Linked DNA regions of Homo sapiens: all the other regions are linked to region 2. The links come from fine-mapping of genetic effects on gene expression. A gene starts in region 2. Each other region holds a variant in brackets. All regions are shown on one strand. Distances are between the middles of the regions. Region 1 overlaps TMEM131 (transmembrane protein 131). Region 2 holds the start of ZAP70 (zeta chain of T cell receptor associated protein kinase 70). Region 3 has its middle 32 kb from the start of ZAP70.

What was found.
Region 1: its variant is fine-mapped to the expression of ZAP70 in whole blood (TOPMed, PIP 0.98).
Region 3: its variant is fine-mapped to the expression of ZAP70 in whole blood (TOPMed, PIP above 0.99).

The regions. Positions count from the first base shown.
Region 1 is chr2:97,863,000-97,868,225 of GRCh38, reverse strand. The region is part of intron 4 of TMEM131 (transmembrane protein 131); the gene reads left to right. Among named protein-coding and RNA genes, the nearest start is that of TMEM131, 130 kb to the left of the region's middle. The variant T/C (reference allele first, on the strand shown) is at 2,391.
Region 2 is chr2:97,710,958-97,716,183 of GRCh38, reverse strand. It overlaps ZAP70 (zeta chain of T cell receptor associated protein kinase 70), which reads right to left and starts at 2,608. Exons shown (of 14, transcript NM_001079.4): 1 at 2,510-2,608; 2 at 2,190-2,268. RefSeq lists enhancers at 1-79, 80-595, 1,827-2,800 and a silencer at 4,774-4,963.
Region 3 is chr2:97,742,878-97,748,103 of GRCh38, reverse strand. It overlaps a transcript of ZAP70 not described here. Among named protein-coding and RNA genes, the nearest start is that of ZAP70, 32 kb to the right of the region's middle. RefSeq lists a silencer at 2,354-2,463. The variant G/C (reference allele first, on the strand shown) is at 2,888.

The DNA.
Region 1 (5,226 bases), 150 kb before region 2:
GCTGTGTTAATTTGGACAAAGTAAACTTCAGAACAAGCACTATTACTGGGAATAAAGGGGGATATTACATAAATATAGAGGGGTTAATTTAGATACACAAAAATAACAACTCGAAATATGCATGCATCTAACAATGGAGCTTCCGAATACTTGAAGCAAATATACCCTTAGGGCATGGGATTTTAAGAATGGAGTAAGGAGCTCAATGGACCACCTCAACAGACAGTACTTTAACTAATGAGAATTATTTTTTAAAAAGTTATTAAAGTTGCAGGAAATTATTCATTCAAAAAAATGTTGTAAATCTTCATAAGAACAGTGGCAGTCTCTGGCATTTGGGCTACAACCTATTCTATTATGCTCCCCACCACATACCCCTCAAGCCCCAGCTCCTTGTTATAGAAGCTCCCTCTAACCCCAGTTTATACTCTGGGACTGCAGTTTCACCCTGAGAAGGGAGGGCTGCTAGCATTTCTCATCATCTCCAACTTTATGTTGCAGAAGTTCTATTTCAGGCACATTTCAGAAAGGACTGGGTCTCTCTTCACCCACCCCACTCTAGGACAGATGCTGTATCCCAGATGCAGCAGGCCTGAAACCTGGGGAACCCAATCTTGCTCACCTCACTAGTAGGATAAGTTCCACACTAGGAAGAGCAAGCTGAGAAGACCAGGGTCTACCACCCCTTCCCCAGTGACCACTACTTGTACAGCAGGGCATCACTAGGGGAAAAGCATATCAGACAACACAGACTTTAAAACCAAAAAGTTACTACAAATAAAGATGGACATTTTATGATTACAAAAGGGTCAATCCAGGGAGATATAACAATTATAAACATATATATATATAACTAATAACAGAGACTCACCCAAAATATATGAAGCAAAACTGCCAGAACTGAAGGGAGAAATACACAATGCGACAGTAATAATGACAGTCTTCAGTATCCCCATTTTCAATAATGGCTATACCATCTAGGCAGAAGATAAAGATATAGAAGACTTGGAAAAAGTATAAACCAACTTGACTTGTAGACATCTGTAGAACACCATGCTCAACAACAGAATACTTATTCAGCTCAGGCATATGTAGAATGTTCTCCAAGATAGACCATATGCTAATCCATAATACAAACACTAGTAATTTTAAATGGATTTAAACAATACAGGCTGAACATTCCTAATCTGAAAATCCAAAATGCTCCAAAATCTGAATTTTTTTGTGTGCCAACATGATGCTCAAAGGAAATGCTTATTGAAGAATTGCAGATTCTCAGATTAGGGTTGCTTAACTGATAAGTGTAATGCAGATATTTCAAAATCTGAAAAAATCTGAAATTCAAAACACTCATGGTTCCAAGCATTTCAGGTAAGAGGGATACTCGTCCTGTACAAAGTATGTTCTCTGTCTTAATTTTCTACTGAAATAAATTGGAAATCAAAAAAGTCTTGGGATAATAAACATACTCCTTAATAATCAGTGAATCGAATAAATCAAAAGGGAAATTAGAAAATACTTCGAGATGAACAAAAACAAAACATATCAAAACTTACGGGATGCAGCAAAAACATTGCTGGGAAGGAAACATATACACACCAAAATATCTCAAATCAGAAACTTAACCTTCTCCCTAAAAAAACTAGCAAAAGAGCCAACTAAAGCAAACAGAAATAATAAAAACTAGAGGAAATAAATAAAATACAGAATAGAAAAACATAACAAAATCAACAAAACCAAAAGTTGGTTCTTTGAAAAGATCGAATTGTCAAACCTTTAGCTATACTGACCAGGGAATAAACAGAAAAGACTCAAATTACTAAAATCAGGAATGTAGGAGGTGACATTACTGTCAACTTTATAGAAAGAAGATTACAGGGCAATTTTATGAACAACTGTATGCTAATTCATTAACTTAGTTGAAATGGACAGATTTCCGGAAAGACCCAAAATACACAAACTGACTCACGGAGAAATAGAAAATCTGAATAGACTTATAACAAGTGAAATGTTTGCATTAGTCATTTAAAAACTTGCCAGAAAGTGGCTGGGCACGGCGGCTCACGCCTGTAATCCCTGCACTTTGGGAGGCGAGGCAGGCGGATCACGAGGTCAGGAGATCGAGACCATCCTGGCTAACGGTGAAACCCCACGTCTACTAAAGATACAACAAAAATTAGCCAGGCGTGTTAGTGGGCACCTGTAGTCCCAGCTACTCGGGAGGCTGAGGCAGGAGAATGGCGTGAACCCAGGAGGCGGAGCTTGCAGTGAGCCGAGATCGTGCCACTTCATTCCAGCCTGGGTGACAGAGCGAGACTCCATCTCAAAACAAAACAAAACAAAAACTTGCCAGAAAGCAAGCCCTGCTCCACATAGCTTTACTTAAGGAT[T/C]CTATGAAACAATCAAAGAAGAATTAATACCAATTATTCCCAAACTCTTCCAAACAATAGAAAGGGAAACAATTCCCAGCTTAGTCTGTTAGATCTGTATTACCCTAATACCAAAACCAGACAAAGACACTACAAGAAAATATAGACAAATACTTCTGCTGAATATAGACGCAAAAATCCTCCACAAAATGCTAATAGATTATAAAAAGAATCTAGTGTACACCATGACCAAGTGACATTTATCTCAAGAATGCAGGGTTGGTTTAACATTGAAAAAATCAATACAGGGAAAACCAATAATCAAGTCAATAAACACAGAAAAAACATTTGAGATAATAACATCCTTTCATGATAATAATGCCTAACAAACTAGGATAGACGGGATTTTCTTCAACCTAATAAAGAGCATCTATGATAACCTGAAGGCTGACATCGTACTTAATGGTGAAAGAATGAAAAAATTCCCCCTACATCAAGAACAACACAAGGAGATCTATTCCTGTCACTTCTCTTCAACATTCTGTTCCAAGTTTGACCATGGCAATAGACCACATTACAATCTATCACAACATTGTGTGTGTTATCCAATTAATTTACTCCAAACATATCATGTTACTTGGGTGTGTGAACTTATGAGCTACTGTCTGGTAATGCGTATTGAGAAGGGCAGAAGGCCAAGCCCTGGTCTTTGTCTCTTCTTGTGAATTTAAAAGGAGAGATAATCCCCAAAATGGAGAGCCCCAGTTCCATACATACACATAAAAACTATTGATTGCCCCATATTTGTCACCACTCTTAACTGACAATGCTTAGGCAGAAGCATCGTGGGACAAAGGTGTCTTCCTAAATCATAGTTCAGTAGCCCTAGGACTGTGGAGGACCAGAGAGAGATGTTAGAGGAGAGCATTTCAAGGGCAGCTGCTCATCAACTCCTTACCCTGGCAAGCTTTTCTATTCTAGGTTGAAGGATCTGGCTCTATCTCAAGGCAGACAGGGAAGAAAGTGGAGAATAATAAAGTTCGGAAGCCTTCTCATAGCCTAGCCTCTCGTTGTCAGCTCAGGCTGCCCATTGACACTCACTTTCCTTTGCCTGCCACTTTAAGGCAGCCTTCAGTTCTCCCAAGGGCTTCTCACTGTTTTTTGGTTATTTCTTGGAGTCAGTACCTCCCTCTAACTTCTAAATTTTTTCAGCATTATTGTTGTGGGGAAGGAAGATGGCAGGAAGAGCCAGCATGTACTAAATCACTATCTTTAAGGAACCTAAATTAGCCCCTGATTAATTTGTTGCTTTTTTTTAAAATTATTTTAAATTTTTGTGGGTACATAGTAGATATATATATTTATGGATTACCTAAGATATTTTGATACAGGTATGCAATGCATAAAAATCACATCAAGGTAAATGGGATAGTCATCACCTCAGTCATTTATCTTTTGTGTTACCAACAATCCATTTATATTATTGTAGTTATTTAAAAGGTACAGTTAATTTTTTTTTTAACTGTAGTCACCGTGTTGTGCTAGGAAATGCTAGGTCTTATCCATACTTTCAGTTTCTTTATACGTATTAATCATCCCCATTTCTACCCATCCCCGCTGCTATCCTTCCCAGCCTCTGGTAACCATCCTCCTACTCTCTATCTCCATGAGTTCAATTGTTTTGATTTTTAGCTCCCACAAATAGTGAGAACATGGAAAGTTTGTCTTTCTGGGTCTGGCTTATTTTACTTAACATAATGTTCTCTAGCTCCATCCAGGTTGTTGCAAATGACAGGATCTCATTATTTTTCATGGTTGAATAGTACTCCATCGTGTATATGTACCACATTTTTTTTATCCATTCATCTGGTAATAAACACTTAGGTGGCTTCCAAATCTCGGCTATTGTGAATAGTGCTGTAATAAACATGGGAGTACATAAAACGCTACAATATACTGATTTCCTTTATTTTGGGTGTATACTCATGACTGGGATTGCTGGATTGTATGGTAGCTCTACTTCTAGTTTTTTGAGGAACCTCCAAACTGTTGTTCCTAGTGTTTGTACTAATACATTCCCACCAACATTCCCTTTTCTCCATATCCTTGCCAGTATTTGTTGTTGCCTTTTGGATAAAGCCATTTTAATTGGAATCAGATATCTCATTGTGGTTTTGATTTGCACTTCCCTGATAGTCATATTGAGCATTTTTTATATACCTCTTTGTCATTTGTATGTCTTCTTTTGAGAAATACCTATTCAGATACTTTGCCCATGTTTTAACCAGGTTATTAGATTTTTTCCTTTAGAGTCATTTGAGTTCCTCATATATTCTAGTTATTATTAATCCCTTGTCAAATAGGTAGTTTGCAAATATTTCCTCCCATTCTGTGAGCTGTCTCTTAACTTTGTTGATTGTTTCCTTTGCTGTGCAGAAGCTTTTTAAGTTGATATGATCCCATTTGTCCATTTTTGCTTTGGTTACTGGTGCTTGCGGAGTATTACTCAAGAAATCTGTGCCCACTCCAACGTCCTGGAGAGATGCTAACTAATGTCCCTTTCTTTCAGTTTGAAAGAACTCCCATTAGCATTTCTTGTAAGATATATCTGATGTTAGTGAAATCCCTCAGCTTTTGTTTGTCTGGGAACGTCTTTATTCCTCTTTCATATTTGAAGGATATTTTCGCTGGAAAGGATATTTTTGCCAGATATACTATTCTAGGGTAAAAGTGTGGGGGTTTTTTTTGTTGTTGTTGCCTTCAGCACTTTAAGTATGTCATGCCAGTCTCTCCTGGCCTGTAAGATTTCTACTGAAAAGTTTGCTGCCAGGTATTGGAGCTCCATTGTACCTAATTC
Region 2 (5,226 bases):
GATCCTGGCCACAGGCTATTCCCTCAGCCCAGAACTGCGCTGCATCCTTCTACTGGGCCTCCGGCTTCAGGCCTCCTCCGTTGTCCCATCCTCCCAGAAGCATTCCATGAGCCCTGCCCCCTCCCCAGCCTGGGTCAGGCACCTCCCCTAGGCTTCCAGGGTCCCCATCCTCCCACATCACAGCCCTGATGGCCTCTGTCTCTGCTCCTCAGTCCCTCACCAGGCTGAGCTCCCCGAGGCAGGGCCCACGGCTCTGTCTTGTTTTCTATGGAAGCTCCTGCTTCCTCCCCACAAATATTTGTCAAGTGTGTAAGGACAATCACAACAGCCTCTGTGCTGGGGACTGCACTACCCTTTGCGAGCATTAGCCATTTATTCTAATTCTCACCACAACTACATTTGGTGGGAACTGTTATCCCACTCCTCAGCTAAAGAAACTGAGGCTCGGAGAGGTCAATGTCACTCTCAGAACATGCAGCCTGCAAGGGGCCACCAGGATTTGAACTCAGGTCTGTCCAATGCAGCAGCCAGCACTAACCACTCCAGCAAATGTCTATTAGGAGACCCTGGAGAGCTGGGCTGGTGCGGGGTCAGGGTCAGATTCCCCAACCCAGCACACTCTCCAAGTGTCTGTTGATTGAACAATGCCCTTCCACCGCCCCTCCAGTGAGGCCCCCAACTCCGGCCTCCACTGCCTGTGTGACCTCAGCAAGCAGCGGTCCCTCTCTGGGCCTCAGGCTCTGTGACTGTAAAAGGGAGATGGGAAAAGGCGGTGTGAGTCAGGAGGATAGGGGCTGATAGAGACAATGGAACAGGGTGGGACTGTCCTGGGCCTTGTAGGCTGTTCACAGGATTCCTGTCCTGGACATGCTGGATGCCAGTAACACCCGCTGGGTCACAACCCAAACTGTCTCCAGGCACTATCAACTGTCCCAGGGAGACGGGAGGAGGTAAAATTGGCTCTGATGAGAATGGCTGCCTTAACCCTGTACCTTGGGGTGGGGCAGGGAGTGGTCAGCACGGGGTGGTCTGGGTGCTGCAGCCCCGGAGAGCATACAGGAACTGTGGAGTCCAGAGCCCGAGGCCACCCAGAGCTAGTGAGGATAATGAGGGTTTTAGTGAGACCTTTCTGCAGCACCTGTATGTGCCGGGCAGTGTGGATACAGTCACTCTCTTTATCCTCCCGAGAGCCCTGGGAGGGAAGCACAGAGAGATGCGGTGACTGGTCCAGTCACACAGCTGGTGAGTGGCAGAGCCAGAATGTGAAGCCAGGCCCCCAGGCTCCAGAGTGTGCACATCAACACCACCCCCGCAACACTGCCAGGGCAGTGGGGCTGAGGATGGAGGGCAGGTGTGAAGAGGAAAAGGAAGCTCTGGATTCAGCAGGAGGCAGCTTCACAGGTGGCACCTTAGGAGTCCCTGACCCTGATCTCTCAGCAAGGCATTATTAAACACCTCCTGTCTGCCTACTGTTCCAACCAAGACGAGAGTAATGAATCATCTCGAGCTGCTCACCTCATGAACTCCTGTTCCTTCCTGTCGGGGATGCTTCCTACCTGGGACACATTTCCCAGCCTCTCGCCAACAGTCAGGAACCAGGCGCCTGCCAGGTGCCCATATCTGCATGTGCATTTAACAGATGCACAAACTGAGGTCAGAGAGGCCAAGCAACTTGCCGAGAACACACAGCAGTTGAGGAGAACTCGGTGTTTTGCTCTTTCTCTCTCCAGGTCTTCCTCTAACCTGAGCTCGCCTACAAGTGGCTCAAGCCTGCCCTGGACTCCTCACAGGAATCACAGCATTCTGCTGATGGAGCTCACGGCCCTGGTGAGCAGCCCCCTCATCTTCACAGAGTGCACATGCGCTTTCTCTGGAGGTTTCTCTGCCTCCGAGAGCCAAGGATGCAGCCAAACAGGGCCCAGCAGGAGCCCAGGGACTGAGCAGGCCTCACCGTGTCCCCTGAACAGCCCCGCTCGGCCAAGCCTCTGGAGGGGGAGCTGCTTCCCTCAGCGTGGCCACAAGCCCCGTCTGCCTCCATCTCCAGCCAGTCACCACCCAGCCCAGTCCTCCAGCTCTCCTGGTCCTCCCAGCAACCTCCTGACTCCCAGTTAATATTCTGTCTTCCTCCTCCAGACACAGCCCACCATGGAGACGGTGGCCAGGTGCCACTCCACCCAGGCACCACTTACCTGGGGACGTACAGGTGGATGTCCAGGCAAACAGGCCACTTGCGGGGTCTCTGGTCCCAATGCCAATGGAGAGCCGGTTCTGGGTGAGGAATCGGGGCTTACAAAGCCGGTTTGGATTTCCCTGCAGCCCAAGCCCCCAGCCTGAGAGGGAGGCCCTGCCGCTCACACTCTCCGCACACACCCCGGGGGAGGATGTCACACCCCGCCAGGGTTTCTCACTCATGGATGGGGGGGGTTCATCCTCTGCCAGGTCTCCCAGAGCCCCCTGGGGTGGCCCTGGTGGCAGGACACAGGCAGAAGGCCCGAGGACAGCCGCTTACCTGAATGCCCCAGCAGCAGCTCTGAGGCCCACGGTGGGCCAGGCCTGCCCGGAAGGCCTGGTGTCTGCTGAGCTCCGGCAAGCAGGCTTGTCTGAAACTAACCTATTTCCTGGATGCGAAGACAGGAAAGGGGGCTGTGTTTGATGTTTACATCAAAGTCACAAAGTGCTGTGCTCAAGGAAAATCACAGGCCACGTGCTCCAGGGAGGCAGAGGGCATTTCCGGGGCCCAGCACTGCCTGCCCAGCTGCAGGATGGGACTGAGAGATGGGAATGAGGCTAAGCAAAGGCAGGGTTTCAGGAAGGACGACTCCAGCAGCAGGAACCGTCAGAAGGGAGGAAGCCTGCATACCTGGAACCGGAGGGTAGGCAGCAGTGGTGGGAAGGAGGGGAGTCCCAGGGCTCATGGAAACTGGAATGCCCCCATTTTCCCCTCAAAGGGGCGTCGCCCTGGGGCCTGCACCAGCTAGACAACCCAGAGGAGTGATTTGTTTATTCCACAGGCAGGTTAGAGCTGGAGGGAGGAGAAACCCACTGAGTCAGCCCATACCCCGAAGGTGAGAACCCCTTCTGTGCCAGGCATCTGGATGGCAAGGACAGCCTGCCCTTGCTCTCCAGTGGCTCGCAGGCTTGTTGGGGGCAGCTGAGTCCACAGGGAGCCAGGGCTGGGAGGCCGGAAGCCTGGGCACTGTGTGTCCCCAGAGTATCCCCAAGCCAGCCTGGAGGATGTCAGGGATGCGTTCCAGGAGGAGTCAGCCACCCAACCGAGACACAGAGCCAGGGCATCCCCAGTGCTAGCCCGGCCCACCTGGGACCTTTCCCACGAAGCTGAACCTGGCTGAGTGCCATCCCGCTGTGGCCACCACCTCCTCCTCCTCTTCCTCTCCTCCCTTCCCTCACCCTGTGCACCCCCTACCCTTGGGCCTGGGGCCACACCTCATGCACTCTCTCAGAGAGGGGCCTGCAGAGCCACTCCCTCGGCTCCATCTCCCCTCTAGTGCCCCAAGGCCTCTGGGAGCCCCTTGCCCACCACCTCCTTGCTTTCTTGGGCACTAAGGGAGTCGTCACAGCTCTCCTGTCTGTGGGGCCTCAGAGACCTGTGTGGAACTGCCCTGGGCCCACTGTGGAGACTCCTAAAGCTTTTCTTCTTGGGGTCCTGCTGCCCTTGTTAAGTGGGCTTGTGATACCCTACCTTGTTTTAACCTGAATTGACTCTCCCTTAGCTAAGAGAGCCAGACAGACTCCATCTTGGCTCTTTCATTTGCAGCCCCTTACCCACCCCGCTTCCTCAAGGACTTAATTTGTGCAAGCTGACTCCCAGCACATCCAAGAATGCAATTAACTGATAAGATACTGTGGCAAGCTATATCCGCAGTTCCCAGGAATTCGCCCGGTTAATAGCACCCAGAGCCCCGGCGTTTGTGTCCGGTTGATAACGCCCAAAGCCCCGTGTCTATCACCTTGTGATAGATTTTAAGCCCCTGCACCTGGAACTGTTTGCTTTCCCGTAACCATTTATCCTTTTAACTTTTTGCCTGCTTTACTTCTGTAAGATTGTTTTAGACCCCCACCTGTCCTTTCTAAACCAAAGTATAAAAGAAAATCAAGCCCCTTCTTTGGGGCTGAGAGAATTTTGAGCACTAGCTGTCTCTCAGTCGCCAGCTAATAAAGGACCCCTGAATTCGTCTCAAAGTGCGGCGTTTCTCTGTAACTCGCTCGGTTACAACAGGCTCAGCTCCCCAGTCTGCCTGAGGATCCCCTCACACCCTACCCCGAAGCCTCCTTGGGGACCTCCTTTCTGGCCCTCTACTATCCTCTGGCCGCCTGAATCCCCTTTAGAAAATCTGAGTTCCGGCTCTAGGCTACTTTTCTCCTTCATACAGCCCCCTCCAAAATGGTGTTTGCTAGCAGCCTCCCTTTTCCCCAGCGGCATCTTGAAACTCCAGGTGCAGCAAGCATCCCTTCACATCCATGCTGGACGCTCATTTCTTGGAGTATTGAGAGAAAAAGACACCGGCACCCTGAAGAGAGGAGAAATTACAGCATCAAATCACATTCATACTACAATAATGAGAGTCGCACTGATTATGTGCCAGACATTGCTGTACGCACATCACAATTAATAAGCCATTCAACCTATTTTCCAGATAAGGTAAGTAAAGCCCAGAGAGGTTAAGAGATGCCAAGTGGCCAGGTGGGATTGCAGCCCAGGCAGCCTGACCCCACCCACGTGCTGCTGGACATAAAAGAAGAAAACTTTGGTTGTAAAATATCTCCCCGAAGGAGGCCAGCGCCCCAGGGAGCTGGAAGCTGAGCCAGCTATGGGACAGGGTGCCTCTGTGTGGGTGGGGGGCTTCCAGTTTCCAGGGTCTTCAGGTCCTGAGAAGGGGATTCCCAGCCTCTGCAAGGCACTGGCCCTACAACCCTTGAGCCCCCCACTTCCTGTCCCAGAGGCTGGTCTGGAAACTACAAAGCCCAGTGCTCAGACAGCTCTGAGATTGGGCTACAGATAATCCGAGATTGGCATGCAGATAAGGTCCTCTGTTCTGCCAGAGTGGAAGGAGGTGGATGCATCTTTTGAATGTTTACAGTAAAGGGCAAACGGATGGAAATGTGGGCTAGGAAAGTTGCGGTGCCTTTGCCTCATCGGGTTGGGGTAAACATTCACTCTACTCATGCCAAGAGCCTCGAAGAAATTCATCAGTCACCCCCATATCC
Region 3 (5,226 bases), 32 kb before region 2:
AAGCCACATGCCTATCACTCTATCCTTGTGGATTAGGTACAGGCCACCCGTTACTTGGGAAATTTCACCGTCAGTGTTTCCCACACTGGGGTTTTAAAATCTAGACACTTGGCTTCAAGATGCATTACAAAGACTAATAGTCATTAGTTCCTGGGAAGTGTCTGCATTAGAGTTGGCAGACATGTCCTGCCCACAGCCTTCCACACTACAAAGCAGCCATCTTCACAACAGATGGCTCGGCCAGTCACCAATAGCAAAAAAAAAAAAAAAAAAAAAAAAAAAAAAAAACCTCGTGCCAGTACAGGCCAGGTCCAATAGACACTCTTCTGACAGCAGGATTTTTTCACACTGAGATAAAATTCACATCAAACAAAATGCACTTTAACCATTTTAGAGTATAAAGCTCACTGCTTTTTAGTGTATTAACAGTGATGGGCAACCATCACCACTCTCTCATTCCAGAACATTTCATCAACACTGCCACCTCCCCCACCTCCAAAAACAACTTCCATGCCCATGAGCAGTCACTACCCACTGTCCTTCCCCTAGCCCCTGGCAACCACTATCTACCTTCTGTCTCTCTGGATTTGCCCATGCTTAACACTTCATATAAATAGAATCACACAATATGTGGCTTTTTGTGTCTGGATCCTGTCACCTCGGTAAAGTCTTTGAGGTCAGTGGCTGCTGTGGCATATGTATCAGTACTTCATTCCTTCTTATGGCTGAATAAGGCTTCCGTGTATGTATATACCACACATTTATCTACTCATCTGTTGATGGACATTCGAGTTACTTCCACTTTTTGGCTGTTATGAATAATGCCACTGTATACACAATGCATTCATGTACCAGTTTTTGTGTGAACATACGTTTTCCATTCTCTTGAGTATTACCCAGGAGTGGAATTCCTGGGTCAGATGGTTAATCTATGTTTAAATTTTTAAAGAACTGCCAAACTGTTTTACAAAGCAGCTGCACTTTGTAACATCCCCACCAGCAATGCACGAGTGATCTGACTTCTCCACATCCACTCCCACAGTTGTTTTTGCCCATTTTTCCTTTACCTTTTTTTTTCTTTTGGAAGTGCTATCTCATTTGCATTTCCCTAATGATTAATAATGTTGAGAATCTTTTCATGTGCTCATTAATGAGTCAATGGTATGTCTTAAAGAAATGTTTGTTCAAATCCTTTGTCCATTTTTTACTTAGACTGTCTTTTTATTGTTGATTTATACAAAGGTCTTTATATAAGTTGGATGTTAGATTCTTCCCCAATATATGATTTGCAAGTACTAGGCCCATTCTGTGAGTTCTCTTTTCAATTTCTTGATACACTTTTCTTGTACAAAGAGTTTCAATGTCATGAAGTCCACCTTCTCCATTGTTTTCTTTTGTTGCTGGTGCTCTTGTGTCTTAGTCTGTGTGTGCTGCTGTCAACAAAATGCCTTAGACTGGGTAATTCATCAACAACAGAAATGTATTGCTCCCAGCTCTGGAGGCTGGGAAAACCAAGATCAAGGCCACTCCTGTCCGGGTGTGTCACCAGCAAAATCTGCCAAGCCCTTAACCTCCTCTGAAAGTTCTGCTCACCTCCTTGCTGAAGCCAAAACTTAAAAACACAGGTCTATAAATTGTGGCATAGACAACGTTGGTTGTGCTTGAGCAAGAGACCTTCCATTGTATTTTAATCCTCACTGGACTTACAGAGAGTAACTGTATATTTTGTGGCGGTGGTGGGTTTTTTTAAGCTATTTTTAAAATTGTAGTAAAACATATTTAATAATATTTGTCATTTTAACTTTCTAGGTGCACAATTCAGTGTCAATTACATTCACAGTGTTGTGCAACCATCACCCCTATCTATTTCCGAACTTTTCCATCATTCCCAACAGAAACTCTGTAAACGTGAATCCATGATTCCTCATTGCCTACTCCCCCCAGCTCCTGGTAACTTCTATCTGCTTCCCGTCTCTATGAATTTGCCTGTTCTAGATATTTCCTGTAAGTGGAACCATACGATGTTTGTCCTTTTGTGTCTGGCTTCTTTCACTAGCATATTTTCAAGTTTCCTCCATGCTGTAGCAGGCAAGAGAGTTTCCCTCTTGTTTCAGCTGGATAATGTTCCATCAGCTGGATAATGTTCCATGGAATGTATACACCTCATTTTGTTTATCCATTCATCATTTGATGGACATTTGGGTTGTTTCAACCTTTTGGCTATCGTGAATGATGCTGCAGTGAACATTGGTTTACTATTATCTGAGACCTTGTTTTCAATTCACTGGGGTGTATACTTAAAAGTGAACTGCCGGGTCGATGGTCAGCCCATGTTTAGCCTTGTAGGGAAACATCAAACTGCTTTCCACAGAGGCTGCACCATCTCACATCCCCACCCACAGTGTGTGAGGGTTCCAATTTCGCCACACCCTCAGCAGCCGTAGTTACGGTGTGTGCACACGGCCATCCTAGGAGGTGTGAGGTGTGGCTTGTCACTGTGGTTTTTATTTTCATTTCTCTTATGATTAATGAAGTTCACATTTCATGTGTTTGTTAACCATTTGTATAGCATCTGTGGAGAAATGTCTGTTCGAGTCTTTTGCCCAGTTAATTGAGTTGGATATTTTTTTGTTGTTGGATTGTAGGAATTCTTTATGCATTCTAAACACTAAATCCTTATCAGATAAATGATTTGCTAACATTTTTCTCATTCTCTGGGCTACCCTTTGATGATGTCCTTTAATTTAAAAATTAAAAGGTTTTTTGGCCAGGCACAGTGGCTCATGCCTGTAATCCCAGCACTTTGGGAGGCCAAGGCAGGTGGATCACCTGAGGTCAGGAGTTCGAGACCAGCCTGGCCAACATGGTGAAACCCCATCTCTACTAA[G/C]AAGACAAAAATTAGCTGGTCATGGTGATGGACACCTGCAATCCCAGCTACTCAGGAGGCTGAGGCTGGAAGATTGCTTGAGCCCGGGAGGCAGAGATTGTAGTGAGCCGAGATTGCACCACTGCAGTCCAGCCTGGGGGACAGAGCGAGACTCCGTCTCAAAAAAACAATAAAACAAATAAAAATTAAAAACAAAAAGTAAAAGATTTTTATATTGATCAAGTTCAGTTTATCTATTTTTCTTTTATTGCTTGTGCTTGGAGTGTTATACCTGAGAATCCACTGCGAAATCCAAAAATATTTACCTCTTTGTTTTCTTAAGAGTTTTACAGTTTGGGCTCTTATATTTAATATTTAGGTCATTGATCCATTTTAGTTAGTTTTTTTATATGTGTGAGATAGAGGTCTGACTTTTTGTTTGTTTTGTTTGTGGAAATCAAGTTGTCCTGGTACCATTTGTTGAAGGGATTATTCTTTACCCCAATGAACAGACTTTGCAGCTGTGTCACCTTCCCTGGATCCTTCCCTGTTATTCTCTGTTCTCTTTTTCAGACCATGGAGAAGCTCTCCTCCCTCTGGCCCATGAAACCTTTCAGGAATTTGATGGATCAGCTATCACATTCCCCTGGCCCCATCCCCAGTTTGCTTTCCTCCATGGAAGGAAGTAATATTTAATAAGCAGCTACTAAGTGCTAAACTAATGCATTGTTTCACTTCACATCACTACTCAGAAAGGTAAACACAGTTATTATCACCATGTGACAAATGAGAAGACTGAAGCTCCCCAAGGTTAAGTAACCTCCCTGAGGTCTCACAGCCAGACTGCAGAGTCCAGGGCCTTGTCATATTATACCGAGCTAATCTGCCAGTTTTGGTTTTTTTCACTTCGTCCACCAGAACAAAATTTTGAGTTTATTTAGCGTGTCTACAGGGTAGAGGCCATTCTCCCAGCTCTCTGAGGAAGAAGGTGTCCAGGGAATGCAGAGCTAGCAATGAGTCAGAGCTGAGGGGAGCACCGGGCCAGGGCCTGCCGAGGAGCGGGGAGTGGATAGGGTTTCGCTGGGTTCAAATTCTCCCTCCTAGCTGTGTGGACTGGGGCAAGTCAGGCCACCTCCCTGAACTTCCGGTGCCTCATCTGTGAAATGTTTACAGATGGTGAAATTGGACTTTCATTCAAGATGGCAGACCAAGTACACATAGAAACCATTCTTCAAACACTTAGCAATGACAGGAAAATACCAGGTATACAAGAGACCACTGCAGAGATGCCCAGAGACAAGGGTTGAAGCCCCCCACCACCTACCCATTAGGAGGCTAGTACCAATGCAGGGCCCCCTAATGTATGAAGCCAAGAGCACAGGCTCTCATATACAGCCCTTACAAGATACACATGCAAGAAATATTCTGAAGAGACAATGGATTCACAACCACTTCATGAAATTTCCACAAACTCCCCAACTGGAAGAATTTACGTCTGAGGAAATAGAGAATAATAGTGCAACCTTAAAAGAATTTTGCAATAAATATATTAAAAACTCAAAGAGATAAAGAAGGGAATAACAGCCATAAACAAGAACAGGAGGCCGGGTGCAGTGGCTCATGCCTGTAATCTCAACACTTTGGGAGGCCGAGGCGGGTGGATCACCTGAGATCAGGAGTTCAAGACCAGCCTGACCAATATGGTGAAACCCTATCTCTACTAAAAATACAAAAATTAGCTGGGCATGGTGGCGGGTGCCTGTAGTCCCAGCTACTCAGGAGGCTGAGGCAGGAGAATCGCTTGAACCCGGAACGTGGAGATTGCAGTGAGCCAAGATCGCGCCATTGCACTCCAGCCTGGGCAACAAGAGCAAAACTTTATCTCAAAGAAAAGAAAGAACAGGAGACTATGAGACAAAAGCAGGCAGATATAAGAAAGAACCAGGAGCTCATATGTGAAAAGTTTCATTGCTAGAATAAAAACTCCACAGAAGCGGAAGTGGAGAGCCAGAGGTGGGAGGGATTTAACAAGGCCACATGGGATTTTAGTGGCAGCCACGGAGCCAGAACCAAGGCCTAACTCAGGAGTTTGGTTCCGAGGAGGATGAATGTATGTGCTTTCTTCTCCCTTTTTTTCTTTCCCATTTCTCTCCCTGAAGTATAAGGTTGGTGCTGAGCTGAACACCACAGCCCCTTCCTAGATGAGAAACAGGGCTTCCATGCCTTGATTGGGCAGGGTGGGACAAAGAGTTTTGCCTCAAGATGGAGAGCTAACAACCTCTGTCCTCTAGAACATGAATTAAACAGAACCTTAATGTCTACAGAGGAGTTTGTTAAATGAAGCCCAGAAAAGCTGCCAA